Regions from separate parts of the Homo sapiens genome. Here region 1 is linked to region 2. A link means that fine-mapping ties the variant in region 2 to the expression of a gene that starts in the linked region. Tissue or cell type: T cells. Region 2 holds a variant in brackets; the other region holds the start of a gene. All regions are shown on one strand. Distances are from middle to middle.

Region 1 (8,088 bases), 20 kb before region 2:
AAGACTGAGGCCCTGCAGCTACCAGGTGGGCTAGAAGGTAACTGGAACAGGCCTGGGCACTTGTGCACCCATGTAGGAGCATGAGGGCCACACTCTTTTCACCTCAAAGCCCTTGAAGAGTGGGCAAAGACAGCAAGAGAGCTGCAGCCTGGGCCCGAGCTCAGAAACAGCTGTCGCCTCAGTCTGCGCACAGGCATGCACCCCAGGGTAGTGCCTGCAGGGATGCATGTGTCCCCGTGGGGGTGCCTGTGCCAGGCAGGCCTCAGGTGCATGCCATGCTCAGAACCCTGCTGCCCTTTCTAGGCAGCCTCCTTGGGGCCCAAGCTCTGCTCCCTGGATCTGCCACCTAGCAGACGTGGGGAGCCTGACCCCATGCCTGTCATGGAACCCTCCTTGCCTGGTGTGTGTGGCTCCCCTCTTCACTGGGCACCTGGATCCAGGCCCACCTGTGTCCCTGACTCAGGGTGGTCCCAGGACTGGCACCTACTCTTTAGAGAGCCCCAGCATCTTTGATGTGGATTGGAGACAATTGCCTGGTTCCCTGGGGCAGGTGAAGACTTGGTGCCACAAAGAATGCCACAGTGGATACGCCAGCAGGCCACATGGCTGGCCAAGCAATTATTATTATGGATCCCTTGGGCTGTGGGCCTTCCCATCCACCCCACCACAACTGCCCAGGTAGCTGGAGCTGATCATAAACAAGAAGGCTCTGGGCAGAGTCCATGGCACCAGCACCAGCCAAGGCCCACTCCTGAAGACCCGAAGCCCAGCCCCTGGATGAAGGTCCTAAGGTCCTGAGGACTCCCCAGCCTGTGCAGGCCTGCAAACCCAGGCTGCCCACAACAGAAGGGGCTCTCGGCTTGTCTGGCCTCTCTGGCCTCCCAAGCAGGTGTGGGAGGGCGGGGCAAGTGTGGGCTGATCAGCTACTCCATATGGCCAGGGTCCTGTGCTGGTGCCTGGCTGGGGGGCTGCATAGCCTGCACTGTCTCCTCCAGGCTGCCCCTGGGGAATACCACGTAGTGTGTGGAGTTCAGCCCTGGCAGCTCCCGCTGGTTCTCCTTGCTATGCCGGATGCCATAGCCGAAATACACTGCAAGTCCTAGACAGGGCAGGAGGCAGGGCATGAGCCTGAGGTACAGGTTCCAGCCCTTCCTGTCCTCTTTGCCCTCCTCCTGACCCCGGTCCCAGCCTGGCCCCCACTCACCCATCAGCAGCCAGATGGAGAAGCGCACCCAGGTCAGATAGCTAAGTTTCAGCATGAGGCAGATGTTGAGGACGATGCTCAGGGCTGGAATCAGGGGAACCATGGGGATCTGAGGAGGCAGAGGCAGGGCAGGGCTGGGCCGGGCTGCAGGAAAGATCTGCCAGCCCAGGGCTCACTTTCTCGGGAATCCATAGAGCCTTTGTTCCTCACGGGAGATTGTGGAGACATGTGCTCACTCACCATGCAGAAAGGGGTGCGGGATGGGTGTGTGGTCCTCCCCAGCCCCGTGAGACTTGTTCATTCTGGGATGGTAGTGGGGGAAGGGGAGGCAGCTGCCTGGGCCGAGTGTGAGTGGGTGTTGGCTAGGGGAGGTACCTGAAATAAGTCTTCCCGATACTGTTGCTGGTGAGCCCCCAGGACAAGGAGGCTGAGCAGAAACATGACACTGGTGAGCAGGAGCAGCAGGATGTAACCCCAGTGTGGGAGGTGCAGGGTCGAGTTCCCAAAGACAAGCACGCAGCCTATGGTGATGGCTGAGGCCAACATAACGCCAAGCGCCCAAGTCACCACTGCTCCAGGGCTGTACCCATCCAAGAAGCCCAGGTAGGGCCTCAGGGCTGGCTTCAGCTCCCCTGGCTCAGGGACGGAGGCGTGTACAGTGCCCACCAGCTGTAGGTGGTCTGAGAAGGAGCTCTGCTGCTTGGTCAGGGGGCCAGGGCTGGCTGGGCCTGGGGAGCTGGGCGGGGAAGACTTCTGGAAGCGCAGCACAATGATACTGGTGGCCACGAATGTGTAGGCCAGGAGTGTGCCAAGGGACAGGAACTGAACCAGCGACTCCAGGTCCAGCAGCAGTGCCAGGAAGGCCGTGAGGAGCCCGAACGCCAGGGTGCCCGCCACAGGCACCTGTGTCCGGGGGTGCACATGGGCAAACACCTGGAAGAAGAGCCCATCGGCGGCCATGGCATAGACAATGCGTGGCAGGGAGAAGAGGAGGCTGAGCAGGACGGTGTTCATGGCTGTAGCAGAGAGAGTGGGGAGGGTCAGCATGGCGGAGAAGCCCACCAGGGGCCTCTGCTGGGGGTCGGTGCATGGGTGGCTCCTTGGGAACAAGGGCATGAGCTTGTCTGGGCTCTCAGAGTAAGCATGAGTTTGTGTAGGAGTAATAGATTGTCAGCGCTTTGCCCAAGAACAGGACATCTGGGTTAGGTCACAGGCCCACTGGAGCATCGGATGAGGGCTGAGTCCCTCTGCCTAGGAAATAATCTATAAGGACATGCCCAGAACTAATATGCTATGGACCATGTGTGGGGCGGTCCCTTCCAAAGTTTCTGAAGAAACTTTTTTTGAAGTGAAGAGTTTCTAATAATTAGCACTTTCCTTGCCCCATTATGCAACTAGTAAAACAGCCCCAGTTGAAGGTGCATTCCCCAAGAATCTGAGGACAAGGTCCCCCTTGCTCTTTTCCCTGCCACCCTGCCCAGGAAGAGTCTCTCACCGCAGATGGAGCCAGCTGCCACGATGAAGCCAGCCCACCTGTAGCCCCGCTGGTAGAAGGCATCTGCAAGCGCTGAGTCGGGGTCCAGGCTGTGCCAGGGCACCATGAGGGTTAGCACGGTGGAGACAAGGATGTAGGCACCAGCTGCAATGGCAAGCGAGATGGCGATGGCCAGAGGCACAGACCGCCGTGGGTTCTGGGCCTCCTCACTGGAGGCGGCAATGACGTCGAAGCCCACGAAAGCATAGAAGCAGGAGGCAGTGCCGGCCATGACGCCGGAGAAGCCGAAGGGTGCAAAGCCGCCTTCGTCAGCGCTCCAGTTGTGAGGCTGGGCCAGGATGAAGCCCAGGATGACAATGAAGAGAATGACAAGCAGGCTGATGGCCGAGAAGGTGTGATTGAGCCAGGAGGACACGCGGGCTCCACAGGAGACAAAGGCAGAGGCCAGGAGGATGATGCCAGCAGCCAGGAAGTCCGGGTAGTGGCCCAGGAGGGGCACCTGCCAAGAACCCACGTGGGTCTCAGTGAAGTTGCGGATGCTGTGGCTGAACATAGAGTCCAGGTAGCCACTCCAGGCACGGGCCACGGCGGCGCCACCGATGATGTATTCGAGGAGAACATTCCAGCCGATGAGGAAGGCCCACAGCTCGCCCATGGATACGTAGGTGAACAGGTAGGCAGAGCCCGTGCGTGGCACACGTGCCCCAAATTCTGCATAGCATAGGGCTGCCAGCAGGGAGGCCACAGCGGCCACACCGAAGGACAAGAGCACAGCAGGGCCAGCCACCTCCTTGGCCACGGCACCTGTGAGCACGTAGAGACCCGAGCCCACCATGCCACCCACGCCCAGAAGAGTCAGGTCCAGCGTGGACAGGCAGCGCCGCAGTGACGTCTCCATGGTGGAGTCCTCCAGCGGCTTCAGGCGGTTCAGCTTCTGGCATAAGCGTGCCAGGCTAGCAATGGTGGGCAGCCCCCGGGCCATGGCAGGTGGCCGAGAAGAGCACCGAGCCAGCTACTGGAACCTGCTAGGGCCAGAGGGGAATGACAGGATGCGTAGCCGGGGCCTGACCAGCCTTCCATCCCTCCTGGTCTGACCACCCCCAGTCCTCTCTCTGTCCCTGACCTGGGGACCTGGACACCCTCACCAGGGGCCTGCTGGAGAGCTGGAATGGGGCAGGTGTCAGAACCTGTGGGCAGGAGGTCACAGGAAGCCTGGAGGCCCTGTCTGCATCCCAGGCAGCAAAGGAGGCCTGGTGAGGCCCCACCTGCTCACCCGCTCGGTGGCCCTGAGGGGTGGGGAGGGAGCAGCTCCAGGGGGAGCAGGGTGAGAGGCTGGGAACGGCTCAGTGGTGGGGTCCCAGAGCCAGGTGAAACCGAGGCTTCCCCAGAGTCGAGCCGGACCCGGAACAGGAGCCGCGGCTCTGCGTCGGGGCGGGTGTGGCCCAGGCAGCCACCTGGCCACAGACAGACAGTGGCGGCTACATACACCCCCGCCCCTGCACCCGTGGCCAGGCTGGGGTATCCGCGCGCCAGGCGGAATGCAGGGGCGCCCTGGGCCCGCACACCTCCCCATGTCCGACACGCCGCTGCTGCTAGAGCCTGCTCCGCCGCGCCCCCGTCCCCGGACACCTGCGCCTTCGCCTGTTCTTGGGCCTGAGCCCGTCCCAGTCCCCGTCCCCGCAGGATCTGCTGCAACCCACCTGCTGCTGCCGCAGCCGCTGCCTCCGCTCTGAGCACTGAGCCCGCCCAGTTCGCCGGCGCCGAGCGCAGGGCCCGCCCCCATCCCAGGCCCCCCGCGCGGCCCCACCCGCTGCCACACACCCAGATATTTCACCCTGCCCACTCTGCCCGACCTCGCAAGGTCGTTACCGGAGCTCACCGGGGTCTAGGGAAGCCCTGTGACTGTGACTCAGTCACAGATGGAGAAGGTCAGACCGCCGGCTGACTGACTAGCCTAGGTCAGTTCGGGGAGGTTAAGGGCCACGTCTGAAAGTCCGCAGCCCACCTTCTTTCTACTGCAGCGGACACCCTTCTTGATCCCTCACCCCAGTACATGAACCCCACCCAGCTGGGCCCCAGACAGGCCCCACAGCACCGTCATGTGAGCTTCAGGCACAGTGAGTTAGATGAAGACATGGGTCTGGCAGAGTGGCCTGGGGCGGTCCCTGACCTCTACTCTTACAATGGAAGAGACTGCAGCCTTTTGAGAGAGTTCTGCGAATTGAGGGAATGCATTCTGGCTGTTTTGAGCCTGCAGCTACCACGTCCTGCAAGGAAGCAAGCAGCTTCTGGGACCAGCCTGCAGCCCTCCTGTGGGGGAGTAGAGCTCCTCAGACCCCAGTGGCAGCCCTTCCTAGCCTAGGCACCTCTGGCAGGCCGGGAGGGCCCTATGGGACCCCAATAGCAGATCCCCACTTGTGTTTATCAGCGACAGCCACTGTGTCCTGAGTACTGCATTCCAGTGCCCCACGCCCCAGGCAGGCAGCTATGCAACAATACACCTGGCTAATTTTTTAATTTTAATTTTTTTAGAGACTGGGTCTCACTATGCTGCCCGGGCTGGTCTCGAACTCTTGGCCTCCCAAAAGGCTGTGATTACATTCATGAACCATGGCTCCTGGCCTCCCCAGAACGCTATACTAGACATGTGTTCAGGCTTACATGTGGTTTGTGGAATGGAATCTTAGGAGCATCTGCAGCCTATCCAGCCTATTGGGCTGGTGACAGGATGATGGACTCCCAGACAAGATGGTGCCAATTTGGAACATTCTGCCTCGGCCAGAATGCCAATACCTTCTAATATTTGGCTGGTATTGTCTTGAGGAACTTCTCAGATGGCTCCCACTTCCGGTGGGATGGTAGCTTCCTTACCCCATCCCTGTGTTGCCTGAGCAGACGTCCCTTGTCCTGAAATGTCACCACAAAAGTCTAGGCACTTCAGGCCAGAGGGTTAGGCAGATTTGTAATGGGAGCTCCCCAAAGGCCTTACCAATGACTGCCTTATTGCTGGTGTCCAGTGTTTTGGAGTGTTGACTTTTTATCTACCTGGAGAAGGTGTGACACCACACCCTCTGCCACAGGCACCAACATACAACGGATATGTGAGACTAAGCAGGGCTGATGCAGTAAATTGTACATTTCCAGAGATATTTCCCTCACTACTGAGTGAGACAGCTACACAGAGCAACCCCACAGTGATGCAGTGAAGACAAACCACCAGGAAACAAAAACTTTCTAACTCATTCTGCAAGGCCAGGATTACCCTGACACTAAACTCAACAAAGACATCACAAGAAAAGAAAACCACAGACCAAAATCCCTTATGAATATAGATGTAGAAATCCCCAGCAAAACACAGTGGACTCTTGAACAACACAGGTTTACTAATACATAGATATTTTTCAACCAAATGTCGATCAAAAATACAGTATTTGGCTAGGCCCAGTGGCTCACACCGGTAATCCCATCACTTTGGGAGGCTGAGGTGAGAGGATCACTTGAACCCAGGAGTCTGAGGCTGCAGTGAGCTATGATCCTGTCACTGCACTTCAGCCTAGGTGGCAAAGCAAGACCCTGTCTCCAAAACTACTAAATAAATAAATTAAAATAAGTGGTGGGTGCCTGTAATCGCAGCTACTTGGGAGGCTGAGGCAGGAGAATCGCTTGAACCCGGGAGGCAGAGGTTGCAATGAGCTGAGATGGCGCCATTGCACTCCAGCGTGGGTGACAGAGCAAGACTCTGTCTCAAAAAAAAATAAAAAACAAAAAACAAAAAATTCATATGGAAATGCAAGGGATCCAGAATAGCCAAAATACTTGGGTATTTTGCCTGGGTAACATAGGGAGACCTCACCTCTACGGAAAGGTAAAAAAATTATATGGGCATGGTGGCATGTGCCTGTGGTCTCAGCTACTGGGAGTCGGGGGTGGTGTTGAGGTGGAAGGATTTCTTGAGCCTGGGAGGTTGAGGTTGCAGTGAGGCATGTTTGTGCCACTGCACTCCAGCTTGGGTGATAGTCAGACCCTGTCTCAAAAAAAAAAGAAAAAAGTAAAGAAAGAAATTAAAGGCAACATAAATAAATGGAAAGACATCCCATGTTCATAGACTGTAAGACTTTAAATATAAAATGGCAGTATTCCCCAAACTGGTCTACAGATTCAGGGGTTGCATAGATTGAGTGCAATTCCTATTGAAATCCCAACTACCTGTTTTGCAAAAATCATCAAAATTCATGTGGAAATGCAAGGGATCCAGAATAGTCAAAATACTTTTGAAAAAGTTTTGGAGGACTTACAATTCCTGATTTCTAAACTGATTGCAAAATGACTGTAATCAAGATTGTGGTGGTGACATAAGAGTAGACACATAGATGAACGGAATAGAATTGACAGTCCACAAATAAACAGTTACATTTATCGTCAAGTGATTTTTTAAAAATAGACTTTATTAGCTGGGAATGGTGGTACACGCCTGTAGTCTCAGTTACTCAGAAGGCTGAGTTGGGAGGATGGCTTGAGCCTAGGAGGCTCAAGGCTGCAGTGAGCTTGATCATACCTGTGAATAGCCTCTTCACTCCAGCCTGGGCAACATAGCAAGACCCTGTATCTAAAAAAAAAAAAAGTTGAGTTTTCAGAGCAGTTTTATGTTCACAGCAATATTGAGCAGAAAGTACAGTTCCCATATACTTCTGCTCCCACACACGTGTAGCCCCCTCTCCCACTACTGACATCCAGCACCAAAGGGGCATATTTGTTACAATCGATTAACCTACATTGACACATCATTATCACCCAAGGTCTATAGTTTACATTAGGGTTCATTCTTCCGGTTGTACATTCTATGGGTTTGGACAAATGTGTAATGACACATAGACACACCATTATTGTATCACACACAGTAGTTTCATTGCCCTAAAAACCCTCTGTGCTCTGCCTGTCCCTCCCTGCTAACACCTGGCAACCACCGATCTTTTTCCTGTCTCCATAGTCTAGTCTTACTTTTGCAGAATCTTATATAGTTGGGATTATAGAGTATATTGCCTTTTCAGGCTTCTTTCCCTTAATAATATGCATTTGAGATTCCTCTATGACTTTTCATGGCTGAATAGCTCGTTTTAATTTTATTTTTTATTTTTGAGACAGAGTCTCACTCTGTCGCCCAGGCTGGAGTGAAGTGGAGTGATCTTGGCTCACTGTAGCCTCTGCCTTCAGGATTCAAACGATTCTCATGTCTCAGCCTCCCGAATGGCTGGGGACTGCAGGCGTGCACTGTCACACCAGGCTAAATTTTGTATTTTTAGTAGAAATGGGGTTTTCCCATGTTGGCCAGGTTAGTCTCAAACTCATTTCCTCAAGTGATACACCTGCTTCAACCTCCCCAATGTGCTGG
Region 2 (8,088 bases):
TGGGCTTGGGGCTGTGGTGAGCATGAAGTGAAATGCACTCCTGAAGTGGTCAGAAGAGTGTGTGACCCATGTACGTGCTCCATGCATGGCCACTTGGGCTATTATTGCCAATCCTGGCAACGGGGCTGTGAGGGCTTCTGAAGTGGGTGGTGATATCACTGCCAGATGCAGCCATCGACGGTATAGCTGCCCCCCACCACAGCAGTCTCTACAGTACCAGGAGGTAGGCGGTTTTAACCACTTGACACAGAAGCTGGTGGGCACACAGGGAGGGGGAGGTCAGGGGCAGAGGGGACCCAGCCATTGGGAGCCAGAGCCACCATGCAACCCCAGGACAGTTAACCTGTAAGTCCCCTTCCTCAGCCTCAGACCTGGAGGTTTGGGGGATGGCAGAAGTAGGGGAGTGCCTGGCTTTGCATCCCACTGGCCGAGGAGTGGTTCTGTCCCCCAGATGTGGACCTGTCGGAGAACCAGCTGGGAGTGGCAGGAGCCCAGGCCCTCTGTGCCGCCCTCACAGTGAACCAGGCCATGCGGAAGATGCAGCTGTCAGGGAATGGCCTGGAGGAGCAGGCGGCCCAGCACCTTGCCGAACTCCTGCTGGCCCACACAGACCTGAAGTCCCTGGACCTGAGCTACAACCAGCTGAATGACCAAGCAGGTAACGCCTGCGCAGGGCACCATGGCCATGAAAGCTCAGCTTCCTGGGGCAGGGATGGGTGGGGGTTGGCAGGACCGCGCTGCACATCGCCAGGGAGCATGTGCTCTGGTTCCTGCTCCCCACACCCCACCTTGCCCCACTCCTCTTCCACTCCAGCCACACGGAACTCTTCATTCCTTCCACAAATATCTCATTGCGCGCTGCTGTATGTGCTGGGCACTGACTTAGCCACCAGGGATCCACCTTGAACAAAACCAAGTTCCTGACCTCAAGGGACAATGTTAACAACATCATTCTGAGTAATTATTGGTGCTACAAAAGAAACAAATAGTTTATGATTCTAGAGAAGAACAGGGACCCCCTACTTTAAAGAGGTGGCTGGGGAGGCCTCTGTGAGGTGACATTTAAGCTGAAATGTGCAGGGTGGGAAGGAGTCAGCCATGGCAAGATCAGAGGGAGAGCATTGCAAGCAGAGGAATAGTGAGCATGCGGGCCTGTTTCCCAGACTGGCGGACAGCAGTGTGCCTAGGCTAGGGAGCCAGGGAAGCGTGGCCAGGCTGTGGGGTGGAGAGGGCAGAGGGGGCTGCAGGGCTGTAGGCCGTGGCAAAAACGGTGAAGATTTTGTTTCAAGTGAGGTAGCGGATGTGATTGGGATTCCTTGATCTCATCACTGTCATGCCCCTGAGCATATTCAGGAGCTGTCTGCTTTGCCAGGAATTTGCACTTCTACCTGCCTCTCCTCAAATGGTCCAATAATGGTAAGGATCACCTGAGACCCTGGGTTAGGCATGCAGATGCTGACCCTGGACCTGCTGAACCAAACTCTTAGGGGAATGCTGGTGAATCTGTATTTTAATGGTTGCCCCAGGAGAATCGTCTTTTTATTTTTTATTTTTTGAGACAGAGTCTCGCTCTGTCACCCAGGCTGGAGTGCAATGGTGTGATCTCTGCTCACTGCAGCCTCTGCCTCCCAGGTCCAAGCAATTCTCCTGCCTCAGCCTCCTGAGTAGCTGGGATTACAGGTGCGTGCGACAAGGCCTGGCTAATTTTTCTATTTTTAGTAGAGATGGGGTTTCACCGTGTTGGTCAGGCTGGTCTCGAACTCCTGACCTTGTGATCCGCCCGCCTTGGCCTCCCAAAGTGCTGCGATTACAGGTGTGGGCCACCGCGCCTGGCCGAGAATTGTTTTTCAGAAGCACTCCTCTGTCTCCAGCTGCTTAGAGCAAGTGGGGTGACATCAGCCTTGGCCTGTGAGAATTGCCTCTGGCATATAACTGCCAGAGAACCAGTTTGCCTTCTAAGAAAATTATTGCAAGAAGTCAGTGAAATTAAGTGAGGTGGCCGGGCCCGGTGGCTCACGCCTGTAATCCCAGCACTTTGGGAGGCCAAGGCAGGTGGATCATGAGGTCAGGAGATCGAGACCATCCTGGATAACACGGTGAAATGCCGTCTCTACTAAAAATACAAAAAATTAGCCGAGTGTGGTGGCAGGCGCCTGTAGTCCCAGCTACATGGGAGGCTGAGGCAGGAGAATGGCATGAACCCAGGAGGCGGAGCTTGCAGTGAGCCGAGATAGCACCACTGCAGTCCGGCCTGGGCGAAAGAGCGAGACTCTGTCTCAAAAAAAAAAAAAAAAAAAAAAAAGTGAGACTTGGCAAGGCACTGTGCCTATCTGTAATGCCAACACCACTTCGGGAGGCTGAGGGGCGAAGATTGCTTGAGGCCAGGAGTTAGAAACCAAACTGGGCAACATAGGGAGCCCCAGTGGTGACAACAAATGATTAAAAAAATTAGCCCCGGGCAACAGAGCGAGACTCCGTCTCAAAAAAAAAAAAAAAAAAAAAAAAAATTAGCCCCAAGTGGTGACATGTGCCTGTAGTCTCAGTCAGGAGGCTGAGGTGGGAGAATTGCTTGAGCCCAAGATGTCAAGGCTGCAGTGAGCCGTGATTGTCCCACTGCACTCCGGGTTGGGCAACAGGGTGAGACCGTGTCTTAACAACAACAAAAAATACTTTCTTTCCTCTTTAGTGCCTGTTTCCCTGTTATGATGTTAAAAGCAGGTACTGTGATGTGCAGCTGGTTTCTGGCTCTTCTGCAGGCGCTTTCTTGTGTGTATAAATGTTCGCTTTGGTGTTCCTGTGAGGGTTGTAGGATGACCGCTGGAGGGTTCTGTTCGGCCATGTTGCTCCGCCTTCATCTCTAGGTCTCGCTATTTTGCCCAGGCTGGTCTTGAACTCCTGGCGCCAAGAAATCCTTCTGCCTCAGCCTCCTGAGTCGCTGGGACCACAGGCTCACACCACTGCCTGGCTTTCACCTTCCTTTCTCTACCACCCCCATCTCCTCTCTACCACAGCTGTGCCAGCCCTGTTGCCTCTTGCCTAGCCTATGGCACCAGCCTTCCATCTGGTCCCCCAGCCTCTTGCCTCTGCCCCCACCCAGCCCAGTCTATCCTGGACACCTGCCACTTGCTGAAATGCTAATCCAGCCTCATCACTTCCTAAGGCCCTCCCTGACTCCTTGCCACTTGTATGTGCTGCCTAAGCCCCTTGGCTTGGCACACAAGGCCCCTCAGCATCTCTCAAGTGCCCATTACTCCTTCCTCACCTCACTGGCTTCCCCCTCCCCAGGCCCAGCTCCAAGCCTGCGTGCATTTCCACAGGTGCCTCTGCCATTTGCAGTTTCCTGTGTCTCCTCCCCACTGTGCATAAGCCTGTGTGCATTTCCACAGGTGCCCCTGCCATTTGCAGTTTCCTGTGTCTCCTCCCCACTGTGCATGCACACACCCCTGGGGAATTCCTCAGTCCTGAGTTATCTCCTCTGTCCTCTTTCCTGACTTCCCCCAAGACAGGCTGGCCACCACTCTGTTCTCACGCCTCCCCCTTTTAGTCTAAATGAATAGCTCACATCCCATACATTTGCATTTGTATCTCCCCCATGAAATGTGAGTTCCTTAAGGGCACCGCAGGCCCACATTAGTTTCATGTCTGTGACCCTCCTGCCCAGCAGAGGCTCGGCACGCAGTGGGCATCAGTGTGATCTTTTGAAGGAGTGAAGAGAGTGAGTCAGAAGGTCTCTCTTGGTGTTTCTGAAGGGGAGACACTTGGACCAGCCCTGGCAGAAAACACAGGACTCACCGAGCTTAACGTGAGCTGGAATCACCTCCGGGGCCCAGGAGCTGTGGCATTTGCCAGGGGACTGGAGGTATGAAGCCCCCACCTAGTCGGCCCTACAGCCTGTCTGCTGGGGCCTGTCTCCCAGGGGCCACCTCCCTGTCTCTGCAGCTCCTCGGAAATGAACCTTGGATCTTTTAAGCACAGCTTAAAGACTGTTTCTTTAGGTGATTTTAATTTTCCTGGCTTCACTTAGTGACCACAATACACTGTGCTCACCGTCACATACTTTCCTGAAGGGTCACTGTTGAATATCTTGCACCTTCCCCAGACACCATAGACACCCAGCTGGGAAGGGACATCTGT[G/A]CAGTCTGGTGACACATGCTCACTGTTGGGCATACGCAGGTGGTTTCCTGAGATGACACCTTGCACCCTTGGATGCCAGCACAGCCTCTCAAACACCCACCTGTTCCCTTCCATGTTGTGGTTCATAGGGCTCGGGAATGGGTGGCTCAAGCTGGTGCTAGGGTGGTACAAGGTGTCTGCAATGTCCCCAGTGCCAGATACCCTGTGGGGCCCTCCTCAGGCCATGGCAGCTGCTGTCTTGCCCTGATGCAGGGGCTGACCTTGGGGTCCTGCCCCACAAGATGGCATGTCACACTCTGTCTTGCCAGAGCACCTACCCTTCTCCCCATCACAGTACGCTGGACAGGTTTCATCCAACAGCTGTTCACTGGATCTTGGGATCCCTGCCCTCTAGAGCCATTAAGTGGGTGTGGAGTCCGATCAATGTTTCTGGGGCCTGCTGCTGCTCTGCACACGCCCCTCCCAGTCTCTCTGAGGGCCATTCACGTCTACACCGGTCCTTTCCTGTTGTGCTCTGGGCCACTGGGCTCTGTTGACCACCATCATCCAAGCTGCAGCCACCAGGGGGTCTGCATGGCACTTTCCTGACCCTTCCTTGGAGCCTCTCCCCTTCTGCCCTTTATCTCTTATCTTTGCACCTCAGGGCTCCTGGTCTCTGAGGCTGTGGCACCCTGGCTTGCTCCACTGTCAGATGGGGTCCCATGACTTCACTCTTTGGTATTCTAGGCAAACATCTTCCTTAAAGTTCTAGACATCTCATACAATGGCTTTGGGGATCCTGGAGCCTCTGCGGTGGGTGAGGCTCTGAAGGCCAACAACGTGTTGGAGGAACTCAACATGAGGTGAGGATCCCCGGGGGGACACCCCAGGAATCATGGGCTCCATGATCTTGCTGCTGAAGCACACAGTCTACCCGTGATGGGGATTCCCGTGATGGGGCTTGAGCCACAATCCCAGAGCAGCTCTGTCATCCTTATCACTGGAGTTTATAATTTTATTTATTTATTTAAAACAGCATCTTGCTTTATTGCCCAGGGTAGAGTGCAGTGCTGTGATCATGGCCCACTGCAGCCTTGGCCTTCCCAGCTCAAGCAATCCCACCACCTCAGCCTCCCAAGTAGCTGGGACTACAGGAGTATGTCACCAAGCCTGGCTAATTTTTTCTTTTTTGTAGAGACAGTCTCCTGCTGGCCTTGAACTCTTGGGCTGAAGCAGTCTTCCTGCCTCAGCCTCCCAAAGTGCTGGAATTACAGTCATGGGGAGTTCATCGTTGTTACATAGAGACCTGTGATTCCTATAGCACAGGCGGATGGCTGCGAATTGCACACGGTGTATAAAGCATCTCCGGCAGAGCCTGGTGCATGGTGGGTGCTCCATGCAAGCTTTCCTCCCTTGCAGAAGACGAGCCAGGGCCAGGTTCTGTGGCTCACAACTGTAATCTTAGCACCTAGGAAGGCTGAGGCGGGAGGATCCATTAAGGACAGGATTTTGAGACCAGGCTAGGCAATATAGCATGACTCCATCTCTATGCGAAATCTAAAAATTGTCCATTTCCGGTGGCATACACCTATCATTCCTGGTACTTGGGAGGCTGAGGCAGGAAGATTGCTTGAGCCGAGGATTCAGGATTTCAGGCTGCATTGCAACAGAGCGAGTAAAACGAGCCTAGTCTGGGTGGGGCAAGGCAGGACCCTGACAAGTGGGCCCCAGTGCCTGTTTTGCTCAGCATGTGGCTACTGGAGCATGCCCTGTGTGAGGGGCTCCTCCAGGCCAGGCAGCGTCCCAGCCTAGCCAGGAGGCACAAGCCCAGAGGGAAGAAAAGAGGCGGATGCCAGGGAGGTCACGGGCCAGAGGCCAGGGAGGTCATGGGCTGCTGTGGCTGAGACCCTCCCCAGGGGCAGCTCCCTGTGGGCAAGAAGGCCCCACTCAATCCTGCCCAGCTTTCCTCCCCATGGGAGGAGCTAAGACTGGAGGCAGCCGCGGAGGCTGAATACGGAGGTGCAGCCAGAGCTGGGGTCTGAGAAGTCAGAGAGAAGCGGGACTGACTCCGGAGACAAAGTGGTCCAGGGCGGTGCTGAGGACTGGAGTTTGGGAACGGCAGGAGGAGGAGAGGCCTTGAACATAAGCTAGGTGATTTTCTGGAACAGGCGTTGTAATGGTGATAGGCATGAGGTGTCAGCTGGGGCAGAATATGTGGGAGCACTTGCAGAGCTCAGAGGAGCGGCAGCTGGTGTCCACCAGGACAGGGACGCTTTAGGTGTGTTTGCCGTGTGATTCCTCTGAACGGTGTCATCTCCACCTTTTACCTGTTGATCTGTCCAGGGTTCCTGGGGTGTGAGTGGAGGGAACAAGAGACCCAACCTGGTGGCTGCAATGGCAGCTCCAGTGGGCACCCTGGGGCAGTGGGCTCTGCACCGCTGCTTGGAAGGTTGCACAATGCATGTGCCTGTTGTTTTTGTTGCAGTAACAACCGCATCTCTGCGATGGGAGCCCTGAGCCTGGGCCTGGGCCTCCGGGTCAACCAGACGCTGAGGATTCTTGTAGTGAGTGCTAGCCTGATGACTGAGACACCAGCACAGACCTGCCCTGTAACAGTCCACACAGATCCCTCCCCCACAGCCCCCACCCAGGGGCAGCAGGCAGGTGCACACAGGCTGGCTCACTCCCTTGCCACTCACCCTGAATCTGGGGCCTGGCCCTCCTCTTCTCCCCTTCATCCCTCCCAGCCTCTCTCCCACATCTTCTTGCTGCCCTTCCTCCTCTGTGGGCTGGGGTGCTGCTCTGCTGAAGGTGGCTGGGCACCCCTTGTGTCTCCCTCATCTTCTCCCCTGCCTTTCCTCTGGCCTTGCTGAGACCCAGGCCCCACCCAGGTGTTCTGTTGGCCACTGCTCAGGCCCACCTGAGGCCTGGTGTTCCCAGCTGGGGTTCCTTCCCCTGGGTTTGCAGGTGGGGAGGGAGTGCTGAGCAGGACAGGGAGCAGAAGACAGACACAGGAGGGAGGCAAGCCGGGAGCAGGTCCCCAGGGGACCACTGTGCCCACAGCAGGTACGTGCTGGGGGACAGTATTGCCAGCTGGGTATGGACATCCAGCTCTGTCGGCCCTCAGCTCCCCACCCTAGCCTTACTGGGCTTCTCCCATAGCTCTCCTCCCCTGCTTCCTGCCTCACAGGAACCTGGACCTCTCTGAAGCATAGACCTGCGTTTCGAGTCACCTCGTAGACAGTCCTCTAAATGTCCCAAAGACACGTGGGAATGTGAGAGTCCAACCTGAACGCATACCCCCCTCTAAGGGCCACCTCCTGGTGGGGGGCTCCTTCTTCCTTCTTCCCAAGTCACCAGCTGGGGCCCAGAGCCTGCCTGCCCCTCCCTTTTCCACACCCTCCCTCCCACCTTCTGCAGGGGCTCACCCTGCTGACTCCTCCCTCTTCTGACTTCCTCTCTTAGCTTCTGTGAACTTGCGGGATTCCTGGCTGCGGTTCTTTCTTCCCAGCTGCTACCCAGGACCAGAAACATGCCCTGCTTTAAAACTGTTGGAGTTTTATCCCCTCTGGATAAACCCAAGCTTTGAGTGCATCATGTCATGCGGAGCTAGGTGTGGTGGCTCACGCCAATAATCCCAGCACTTCGGGAGGCTGAGGCAGGCAGATCGCTTGAGGTCAGGAGTTTGAGCCCAGACTGACCAACATGGTGAAACCCTGTCTCTACTGAAAACAAAAAGATGAGCCAGATGTGGTGATGCACACCTATAATCCCAGCTACTCTGGAGGCTGAGGCAGGAGGATCCTTTGAACCCAGGAGGTGAAGGTTGCAGTGAGCTGAGATCTCACCACTGCACTCCAGTCTGGATGACAGAGCAAGACTCTGTCTCAAAAAAAAAAAAAAAGTAACATAGCATGTCATGGGGGATCTGGGCTCTGCCAGCCCCTCTCTTCCAAGTTCAGTGCTCTCACCCCA

Evidence for each region. PIP is the estimated chance that this variant, and not a neighbour inherited with it, causes the effect.
Region 1: SLC7A4 starts here. The variant in region 2 is fine-mapped to the expression of SLC7A4 in T cells (TOPMed, PIP above 0.99).

Annotation. Positions count from the first base shown.
Region 1 is chr22:21,028,132-21,036,219 of GRCh38, forward strand. It overlaps SLC7A4 (solute carrier family 7 member 4), which reads right to left and starts at 4,430. Exons shown (of 5, transcript NM_004173.3): 1 at 4,400-4,430; 2 at 2,700-3,721; 3 at 1,580-2,220; 4 at 1,205-1,313; 5 at 587-1,099. The coding sequence starts at 3,681. The coding sequence ends at 924. MIR649 (microRNA 649) reads right to left here and starts at 6,141; the gene lies at 6,045-6,141. RefSeq lists an enhancer at 3,976-4,486.
Region 2 is chr22:21,048,500-21,056,587 of GRCh38, forward strand. LRRC74B (leucine rich repeat containing 74B) reads left to right here. Exons shown (of 10, transcript NM_001291006.2): 4 at 452-658; 5 at 3,750-3,859; 6 at 4,861-4,976; 7 at 6,599-6,677. Among named protein-coding and RNA genes, the nearest start is that of LRRC74B, 6.6 kb to the left of the region's middle. RefSeq lists enhancers at 3,863-4,376, 4,377-4,888, 7,094-7,626. The variant G/A (reference allele first, on the strand shown) is at 4,135.